3 linked regions of the Homo sapiens genome follow. The protein of the gene in region 3 interacts with the protein of the main gene of each other region in a pairwise test. Each region holds a gene or a part of one and is shown on either strand. Other genes may lie near its edges. The genes, in order: KLRC2, PCNX4 and FBP1.

Region 1 (3,756 bases), on a different chromosome or scaffold from region 3:
GAGGTAAAGTTGATATAGACGAAAATCAAGGTAGAACTTTATTCACGTGAATAATTCAAGGTGAAAAACGAGCCAAAATATAAACTATGTTTAAGGATTTCTTAGAGTATTCACATCATTGCCGCTGGAGAATCACTCAAGTAGATGCATACATAATAATAGGTTTGCCAATCCATGTAATTTAGAGTGAAACCCATAACCATCATGACAATGAACAATTAATTTTGGATTTTGTAACCATTACATTTTGTATATTATATTTAGACCAAACTTTAAAAATAAATTTTTAATATGGATACATCAAATTGTGAATGTCAAACATTAATTCTCAATCACACACCTAGATTTCATGAAAGCAGTTTTAATTTTTAATAAAAGTAAGGATGAAATCATTTCCATAAAATGCAAATCTGACCTTAATTATAAACAATTGGAAGACTTAAAACAATTGAACCAAACATTGCAAAAAAGATGTACCACACTGACATGAGACGCCTAATTAATGAGTTATTTTAACACACTCTAATGCAAATCAGAAATAATAAAATGGCAATTGTGTTAAAAATAGTTGAAATATCTATTATGTATTCAGTGGTAACATGTGCCAGGTTGTGTGTTTAGTTTTTTACATACATTATACTTTATAAATTATTTTTCCCAATGTAGATTAGTAAACTAGGTTAGTAGACACTAAGTAATTTAGTACAGGTCACATATTACAACTTGCAAAGCTAGAATTAATTGTAGTCTCACTGACTACAGAGCTCATTGACTAGATTATTAAATTACATTATCTGAACTATTACAATTACTTATACAACCAAAGCAACCCTCACTGACTTATACAATCATAGGAGCTTTCTGAAAGTTTGATTGGACACTATTCTTCCATAGACGGCCCACACGTTTATTTATCATTTTAAGTTTTCCTATTTTAGTCATTAAATCAATTACCAATTTCTTGTGTAAAAGCAGCAATTTAAAAATACGTTTTCAATAATATTTATGCATACAGTAATGTAATGTTTTACAAGATATATTTTTAAAATTTTAATGATTTTTCTGATTTCCTAATTTAGAAAAAAAATCATTTGACAATACCTCAGGTCCTTTTAATAAATGAATGTAAGTCACTAACAATGTATTTTAGTATAAGAAGATACTCTATATGCTGACAGAACTATTTTATCTTATGGCACACAATCCTTAACCATCAATGACTCTTAAAACTATGATAAAATTTGTGTATTTCTAAATACAGTATTTTGATTGTTGACATATGCAGTCTATTGGTGTTAAACATTTTTGAAGAATCTAACCTTAATTTAATACCAATTTTTCATGAACTTCCTAGTTCTCATAAGTTTAATGTTTTTATTGTTCCCACTAGTAATATTATGTCAAATACAGAATACATCTAAAAAATTGCCAATTATATCGTGTGATTTTTGTTTAAAGCTTTAGGAAATTAGTAGCAGAATTTTACATTGGTTAACAGCAAAGTAAACATTATTACTCAGCCCCAACACATGCACATTGCCTATACCAGGGATCCTGTCAAAATATACACCATTTATAGCTTCTTAAGTGCAGTTATCATAGAGCACAGTCCCTCACATCACACAGCTGCAGAGATGAATAAACAAAGAGGAACCTTCTCAGAAGTGAGTCTGGCCCAGGACCCAAAGCGGCAGCAAAGGAAACCTAAAGGCAATAAAAGCTCCATTTCAGGAACCGAACAGGAAATATTCCAAGTAGAATTAAATCTTCAAAATCCTTCCCTGAATCATCAAGGGATTGATAAAATATATGACTGCCAAGGTAAAACATTAAATATATCTTCAATATTATTGTTCTAGGATGTGCAGTTGAATGCAGAAGGGTGAGGAAAGATTAGGGAATATTTTGCACTTGTGAGAATCGGAGTTCATAATTGGGATCTAAAATTCTAATATGAAATCAGAAGACTAATTTTATTCGGGCATTGTTCAACTGTAATCTGCGGTCCACTCATGGAACATTATATTTACTGAAAATGAAATGGTATATTCTGAGAGAAAGATTACTAGAGTAGATGTAGATTTAGAGGCCAGAGTTTATCATTATGTTTCCCTGTGCATGTGGGTTCTCTAGTATGTAATTCTCTAGTATGTAATCCTAATCAACTCTCTATCTCCCCTCTCTCAGTGCCTCTATTTCTCTCCCTGCAGGTTTACTGCCACCTCCAGAGAAGCTCACTGCCGAGGTCCTAGGAATCATTTGCATTGTCCTGATGGCCACTGTGTTAAAAACAATAGTTCTTATTCCTTGTAAGCATATTCTTGAAAGATTAGAAGGGAACGTTTTACTTTAATGCTTGGAAGTGCCTCAAAATATTTCATACTGTTGAAGAATAGAACTCTTATTTTACTGTTTCTTTCAAAGATCTATTACTTCATTTATTTTTATAGAAAAAGTTAATTTTATTAAAGATTGTCCCCATTTTAAATAACACACAAAGTTTCAAAGTAAGAAACTAAACTCATTATGGTTTATCTAAATATTACTTTTTATAAAAATCATTTTAATTTTTCTGTTACAGTCCTGGAGCAGAACAATTCTTCCCCAAATACAAGAACCCAGAAAAGTACATTTTTATTTTCAAAGTTCTGATATTAGTACAATTTGGAACCAAAAGTAATATGGTTATTCTGAATTTTTCACAACATAAATAACAAAATCATTGTAGAGAACATGTGTTTATTTTTTGTGTGTAATCTATATATATGTATATACATACACACACAAAGATATTTTCTGATTTCATAATTCAAAGGCATGCTATAGAAGAAAAGTATTTAGAAAAACAAATTAATTTTTGAAAGTGGTTACATCAAATACTACAAGAGATGGTGAAGTTTGTGCTAAAGTCTTTAAAAATGTTTATTTCAAAGGTCTATTACTTTATATATTTTTATAGAAAAAGTTAATTTTATTAAAGATTCTCCCCATTTTAAATAACACACAAAGTTTCAAAGTAAGAAACTAAACTCGTTATGGTTTATCTAGATATCAGTTTTTATAAAAATCATTTTAATTTTTCTATTACAGTCCTGGAGCAGAACAATTTTTCCCCGAATACAAGAACGCAGAAAGGTACATTTTTATTTTCAATGTTCTGATATTAGTACAATTTATATTTTGTGTCTGTTTTAAGGCATGTAAAAGAATAGTGGCATTTTTGCAGAAAATAAGCCATAAATTCAGCCATAAATATTTATAAAGAAAGATTATGAGGCAGCATTTCCTTTTCTCCAGTGAGTAGAAATACTCACTTAAAATCATTCTACCCTCTTTCTCCCAATTAACAGAGGTTTCCTACTGCTGTGAGATGATACCAAATAAATAATTTTACTATTCTAAAAAAGCAGTTGTGTATCAGCGATGTTCAACACATGTGTAGAGTGTATTTTTGTTTGTTCATTTGCTTTATATGGGAACACAATTAGGGAGGAGAGGCTAACCCTTGTCTGTGCATGTGTGTATGACTGACTCAGTTATTAAAAATATACATTTATAAGCCTGTAAGGATGCGTAAATATGTTAAGCACATATATGTTTATACTGTTGAAATATGTGAACTAATTTTCATTTTTAAAAATTCATATTGGTCTAGATAGTAATTCATATCTTTATTAGCACGTCATTGTGGCCATTGTCCTGAGGAGTGGATTACATATTCCAACAGTTGTTATTACATTGGTAAGGAAAGAAGAA
Region 2 (3,656 bases), on a different chromosome or scaffold from region 3:
TGGTTCTCAGGTTTTTTTGTAAAATAAATTAATTTATTTCTAGTAATTCATGTGAGTAGCAGACTTCATTCACCTGATACTTGATTTTAAAAGAAAAGTTTTTCAACCCAGGGAATTTATAGTGGGTGTCAGTCGAGAAAAATGATGGGACAAGTCTCAATCATTTTAGGAGATTTATTTGCCAAAGTTAAGGACGTGCCCGGGAGGCAAGTCTATGTCTTTCTTCGAAGATGATTTTGAGGTCTCCAAATTTAAAGGGGAAAGGGCAGGATGTTGAGAAGTACACAATTGTCATGTAAGAGGTGGGTAGGGGCAAATAGTTATTTATGCCTTTGGCTCAGTGAATCTGCATTTTTTACATAAGATGACATAAAAGGGGCAGAGGAAAATATTAGGGGAATCTGCATTTTACATAAGATAACAGACAAAATGGGGTAGGGGAACAATCAGATTTGCATTTATGTCTGGTGGGCCAGGGGTAACTGCACCTGTAAGCTGTCAATTGACATTGCCAGGATGAAATTTTAGCTCACTGGGAATTTCCCTGTGGGCAAAATATAGGGGAGGTGTGTAGCTTTTCATCTTGTAGCCATCCTATTTAGAAACCAAAAGGGGGGAGACAGGTTTGCATGACCCAGTTCCCAGCTTGACTTCTTCCCTTTGGCTAAATGAGTTTGGGGTCCCAAAATTTAATTTCCTTTCACATTTCCCTTCTTTTTTCTGTAAAATCTTTTGGAGAAAGCATTTTAAAAGGAAGACGAGTTCCTGGCCTCAGGTTGGTTTTTCCTCCCTTTTTTGAGCTGCTTTCTTATTGCTAGGATGGTTTATTCCTAGAAGTTCAGGTCCCCAGTCTCTAGGAAGGCTCATTTCTAAGAGGTCATGTCCCATGAAGGTTAAAAAAAAAAAATAGGAAGAGGAAAGAAGTAAAAAAGGAAAGGAAAAAAAAAGAAAAAATATATAGGGACCTAGGCCAGATTTATAGCAACAAAAGGAAATCACACCTGGAAGCTGGGTCAGGCTATATTACTGCCTTCTCAATTAGAGCAATTCTCTAGGGAATCATTACCCTAGCCCTTTCAGTTCATTGACATATTTGCAGGCACATAACCATAACAACACTGTAAGCAGAAACAGGACACAACACAAACTATTATTCCTAATATAAGCAATAAGCTTCTGTCACCAAGTTTCCCAGGATCCAAACCCACCACTCAACTGATTGATTAACGAAGGTTTTGGGTGTGACAGATATCTGGGTTTTCATATCAGTCATAAGTCAGATTATGTTCTTCAATTCATCTGGAATATAAACACAACATTCCATTTTTATGATGGTGCAGGTCCTCCCTTGTGCTGCCGTGAGTCTATGTAAAGCCATACGGTTTTGCAGCACAGCTTTCCTCATAAGCATGACTTCCTTGTTTAGCAAGGAAATACTCATGCAGCTATCATTCAGGACCTTTTGGGAGTAATTCACTAAAGCCTCTATATGCCATATAACATCTTCAGTACCTATCTGTGGTACAAAGATTGAAGCTAAGTGGTCATACCATTAGAATACCAAATGTGTCCAACAAGATTGTAAATGAAAAAGGTTTGCTGGTTTTGGCAGGTCTGAATTACTCGTCCTTGTGCCCAGGCATAACATAGGGAACATTGTCCTAACCACTCTGGAGGTAACCACGGCCATAAGTTAGTGCCACATAGCCAATATGTCCCATTTGGAGCTAGCCAATAAATAACTGATCATTGGCACCCAATGGGTGGCAAGCCATTCAGTGTCTTGTAATATGATAGTGTGGTCACAGCGTTCTCCAGGTATCCACCCCATATCTCTCGTACTGTTTGGACATAGGTCCTTGGTGTGATTTCTTTGCTCCCAACACAAAGCATTTTGGCTGAGTTGGCCAAATGAAGGGGTGAGCCAGATAAATCAATACCAATTTAAAAGGCCTGTGTAACAAATAATTATTCTTGCTGTACTGTATCCAAATAATTAAGCCAAGTATAGTAAAGCAAACCAGTCCTACCATGACTTGTCTTTTAATAAGTGGGAAACTGGAGAGAGAAAATTATGTTTCAAAAACTGTAGCACACCTGTTGTTAAATTCTAGTCTTGCCTCATGTTTTCCAATTTTTAGTATTTTCTACAGTTTAAATTCTGATTTTTCTGGCTACAAGTTTCTAAAATAAGTTGTGCTTCCTTAAAGTCCTATGAACTGAAAACTAGATGTTTTATCAGGCGCTGCCTCTAAACCCCCCAACCATCACAGAAGGAAATCTCTTCACTGCTGGCATTGACAACTAATAACTGAGGGTGCCCGGAATCCTTCACCCCATGTCTAGTGAGTCTACGGAACCAGGGTAATTGAGACAATATCTGTTACAGGAATCAACTCCTGGATACATCACACTTGAGTCAAAGCCTGGAAAGCTGAGGAAGCAACCCCTGAGAGCCCAAAGGAACGTCCTAAATATAATGGAAATTATTTACTACGCCTTGTGGGAATTGCTTTACTCTACTATTTGCAGTAGGACTATATACTATAGCACCTTCAGGGTGGAATATCTGACAGGGAATCTCAATTGCTGTAGCATTTTGCTTAATTATTATCCTCATAGCAGGAATAACTGTTACTAACAAAAGATAATATGTGGGCCTTTCCAAACATGTGCCTCTGCCTCTCATTAGGTAGGGAATGTTGTTTCTATCTCAACCAATCAGGCCTAGTAAGAGACTGCTGAAAAACTTAAAGGTCTAAAAAGCTAAGGGAATACCAAAACAACCAGACAGATTCTTGGTTTGGGAGCAGAATCATAGCATGGGTCACCCCATTCCTGGGCCCTCTCCTAATAATATGCCTAGGACTAATGTTCTTACCCTGCCTAATTAACCTTTTTCAAAGATTTTTAGCTGACAGACTCATGACCATTTCACACACAACTACCCAAAAACATCTACAGTGTTATTTCTGCAGTCAATCCAAGACCCAAAAACTGTCTGTCCCCTTGTCAGCAGGAAGTAGCCAGAAAGAACACACTGCCCCTCGTCATTTTTATAACTACAGGGTCTGGATTGACAGAGCAGGAGCATCACCCTCTTCGACTTCGACGAGGACCATCATTTTAAGTTTCACCTTGATCAAAACCCACCAAAATCCAAAGGGCATCAGCCTTATGGTTAAGGTCAGCATGAACATAAATCACACAACATCTCTGACCAGAAACATTCGAAACCCCTCCCGGACCAGAGACATGCCAGCCCCGAGATAACCTTCCCCCTGGCTGGAGAGATGTCAGCCCCAAGATAACCTCCCTTCTGACCAGAGACATTCCAACCCTACCATAAGCTTCTCCCCCATGCAGAAACATTCCAAACCTGTAATAAGTTCTGTCACCAATAAATACTGTAAGTCTGTAAGAGAGAGCTTTCCTGACTGAAATCAGCCAGAAGCCTCTCTCAGGTTTATTCTCCAAAACAAACCTGTCTTTGACTGTTGAGCCACTTTGTATTTCTTTCCTCTTTAACTTACACTGTGACCTTACAAAACACTCTTATTCAAAAACCCTCCAAAAGTCTTGAATTTGAGTGAATACCTTTTTATAGATCCAAAGAGATGTTAACGTGCTTGTTCCTTTTCAGTCTTTCTTTTCTA
Region 3 (3,656 bases):
CACAAACCCATTTCTTTCCACCGCTTCCCTGCCCCTCCTAGTTTTCACCTGGGGAGGTGGTTAGTTAGCTGGTTGCACTGGGTTATTTGATTCAGTTTGGTTTGTATTCACCAGACAGTACAGTGGAGCTAAACACAGACTAAACTTACAGGATCAAAACTTTGAGGGAATAATTCCAAGTTTTGCCAATGCACAACCTTGAAAAATGAAATTAATGGCCTTTGTCAACATGCGCTGCCTGTCAGAGGCTCATTTTAACAATCACCAGCTTCCCTTGAAGCCAGGTACACAGTGGGTGGACTCAGGACTCTAACTCTCCTCTCCTCCCACTGCAGGCTTCAAGTAACCAGTTCTCTGCCAATAAAGGCCCCTTTTCCCAGAGATTCACCTCGCCCAGAACCATCCGTGCCGGCCTGTGGCAAAGGTGCAAAAGTAAACAGCCCTTCCCTGACATACGGTCACCAAATGCTCTACATTTATACACTTCCTCGCACGGAATAAAAAATAATAGTAATACTTGTCTATGACCCACATACTCAAAACGAAGAGAAAATTATCCCACTGAGCCATGGATTTGGAGGAATTCTTTTCTAGCCCAGCCCCCAATTTTTTTTTTTTTTTTTTTTTTTTTGGAGACAGAGTCTTGCTCTATCGCCAGGCTGGAGTGCAGTGGCACAATCTTGGCTCACTACAACCTCCACCTCTTGGGTTCAAGTGATTCTCCTGCCTCAGCCTCCCAAGTAGCTGGGATTACAGGCGCCCACCACCACGCCTGGCTAATTTTTTTTTTTATTTTTAGTAGAGATGGGGTTTCACCATGTTGGCCAAGATGGTCTCGAACTCTGGACCTCAGGTGATCCGCCTGCCTCAGCCTCCCAAAGAGCTGGGATCAGCCCCCTTTCTAATTCCTTCCTCCAAATGCTCAGCAATGCATGCCTTTCCTCCAAGGGAAACATATTCCATTCTCCTGCAGATGCCCAGGGACCAATGAGCACGGAGCACTTGGCAAAATCAGAAACCTCTGGACCCTTCCTTTCTCTGCCTATCTGAGGCCACCACCTGCTGTAGGCACTGGCTCCATGTCATCACATATTATTCCATGTCATCACATAAGGAGAAGTAGGCACAGAAACGGAGGGCCTGGGGGAGGAGAGACTGTCACGTCCACAGTGGTCTTTCCTCGGAGCAGAAACCAAACCCTACTTTTCTGAATCTCTGCTTTTGTGGTGGGAGCTGTAAAGGACATTGCAAGTTAGAGTATGTCCAGTAGAGGGTGATCAGGCTAGAGAGAAGTCTCAGATCCCTCTCCTGTGAAAGATGTTCAGCTTAAAGGGAAAAAAAGTGGGTGTGGTGGGCATTATTGGGAGGGCAGAAACACTGTTTCCAAACATGTCAAAGAATCTTATTTTCTTATGCTCTAAACAGCCAAGTGAGCAAAATGAAACAGATTTCAACTCAATATTTGGACAAACCATGATGGTTACCCAGCATTGCAGGAGAATTCGCCCTGTCAGGATGTCTCCAGCCAGACACTGGTGGGGCCAGGCACCGTGGCTCATGCCCGTAATCCCAACACTTTGGGAGGTCGAGGCGGGAGGATCGCCTCAGCCCAGGAGTTCAACACCAGCCTGGGAAACATAGCGAGACCCCCTTGTCTCTACAGACAATACAAAAATTAGCCAGGTGTGGTGGTGCACCTGTAGTCCCAGCCACTCAGGAGGCTGAGGTAGGAGGATGGCTTAAACCCGGGAGGGTGAGGCTGCAGTGAGCCATGATGGCGCCACTGCTCTCAGCCTGGGCGACAGAGTGAGACCTTGTCTCAAAAAAAAGAAAAAAAAGAAGAAAAAAAAAAGGCCGGACGCAGTGGCTCACGCCTGTAATCCTAGCACTTTGGGAGGCCGAGGCGGGCGGATCACGAGGTCAGGAGATTGCCACCATCCTGGCTAACACACGGTGAAACCCCGTCTCTACTAAAAATACAAAAAAAATTAGCCAAGCGTGGTGGCGGGCGCCTGTAGTCCCAGCTACTCGGGAGGCTGAGGCAGGAGAATGGCGTGAACCCGGGAGGCAGGGCTTGCAGTGAGCCGAGATCGTGCTACTGCACTCCAGCCTGGGCGACACAGGAGACTCCATCTCAAAAAAAGAAAAAAAGAAAGAAAAAGGAAGAAGGAAGAAAAGGAAGAAGAAGAGGAGGGAGAAGGAGGAGGGGAAGAAGGCAGAGGAGGAAGGGGGGGACGAGGAGGAGCAGGGGGAGGAGGAGGGAGGGAGAAGGGGGAGGGACAGGGAGAAGAAAGAGAAAGAATAGTAGTAGTCGTGGCCGGGCGCGGTGGCTCACGCCTGTAATTCCAGCACTTTGGGAGGCCGAGGTGGGCGGATCACGAGGTCAGGAGATCGAGACCATCCTGGCTAAAACAATGAAACCCCGTCTCTACTAAAAATACAAAAAATTAGCCAAGCGTGGTGGTGGGCGCCTGTAGTCCCAGCTACTCAGGAGGCTGAGGCAGGAAAATCGCTTGAACCAGGGAGGCAGAGGTCGCAGGGAGCTGAGATGGCGCCACTGCACTCCAGCCTGGGCGACAGAGAGAGACTCTGTCTCAAAAAAGAAATAGTAGTAGTCGGTAGGCCCTGGAAAGATGCTGTGGCAGGAGCTGCATGCAACATGACCACACATCCTTCCACGTGCCTTTCCAGGAATCGTGTAGCAAGGCCTGGTCACCATGGCAGGGTCACAGTTACTGATGCTGCCCCACTGGGCGTGGGCACCATGGTGCGATTCTAGCCAACAATCATCTCTGCAGAAAGCAGGAAAAATCCCCTTGGAAGCATTATAGATGTCTATGTTTATGCCTCATGAGCCCTCAACTGGTTTCAGCTGTTTCAAGCAATCAATAAGGCTTCAAAAAACTGAAATGACTTAGAGGTCTGTGTCATACTCATCATCACTTTCTTTTTATTAATTAATTAATTTATTTATTTATTTTTTGAGACAGAGTCTTGCTCTGTCACCCAGGCTGGAGTGCAGTGGTGCGATCTCGGCTCACTGCAAGCTCCGCCTCCCAGGTTCACACCATTCTCCTGCCTCAGCCTCCCAGGTAGCTGGGACTACAGGGGCCTGCCACCACACCCGGCTGATTTTTTGTATTTTTGGTGGAGATGGGGTTTCACCGTGTTAGCCAGGATGGTCGCAATCTCCTGACCTCGTGATCCGCCCGCCTGGGCCTCCCAAAGTGCTGGGATTACCGGGGTGAGCCACCGCACCAGGCCCCACTTTCTGTCTTTTAAAAAAGTCACTTCTGGTTCATTGAGAAGACAGCCGAGCCTTATTGTTGAGAATTCTGTCATTCATAATTCAAGCTGCTGTTGCAAGCTGGCTTGATTTTTTTTTTTTAGTTGATAGCCAATGTCTCTCAATTTCCCAGGTTTTTTTTCCTTAAAAAGTATTATTTGGGGGGACTGAGATGGAGAATGGGCTTAGTAAACATCAACACTGCTTTAGTTGTGGTTAACACATTAGCCAGATGTCTTCCTCTGCAAGGAAGAATTTTGCTACAAACCTCTCCTGCTATTCTGTGGATTTGATATTTTGCAAGGAAAATTGCATTCTTCCATGTCTACAACAGAAATGGTATGTTCCTTGGCATGACTTGGAAAATGGA

The links.
Region 1: the proteins of FBP1 (region 3) and KLRC2 interact in a two-hybrid assay, tested with the Homo sapiens proteins (one large-scale study listed by BioGRID and IntAct).
Region 2: the proteins of FBP1 (region 3) and PCNX4 interact in a two-hybrid assay, tested with the Homo sapiens proteins (one large-scale study listed by BioGRID and IntAct).

What each region holds. Positions count from the first base shown.
Region 1 is NC_000012.12:10,433,865-10,437,620, reverse strand, and holds the start of KLRC2 (NKG2-C type II integral membrane protein), read left to right. Parts: upstream 1-1,610; 5' UTR 1,611-1,634; coding exon 1,635-1,821; intron 1,822-2,210; coding exon 2,211-2,309; intron 2,310-3,090; coding exon 3,091-3,135; intron 3,136-3,678; coding exon 3,679-3,756. UniProt on the Homo sapiens protein: Immune activating receptor involved in self-nonself discrimination.
Region 2 is NC_000014.9:60,094,897-60,098,552, forward strand, and holds part of PCNX4 (pecanex-like protein 4), read left to right. Parts: intron 1-3,656.
Region 3 is NC_000009.12:94,611,944-94,615,599, forward strand, and holds part of FBP1 (fructose-1,6-bisphosphatase 1), read right to left. Parts: intron 1-3,656. UniProt on the Homo sapiens protein: Catalyzes the hydrolysis of fructose 1,6-bisphosphate to fructose 6-phosphate in the presence of divalent cations, acting as a rate-limiting enzyme in gluconeogenesis. Plays a role in regulating glucose sensing and insulin secretion of pancreatic beta-cells.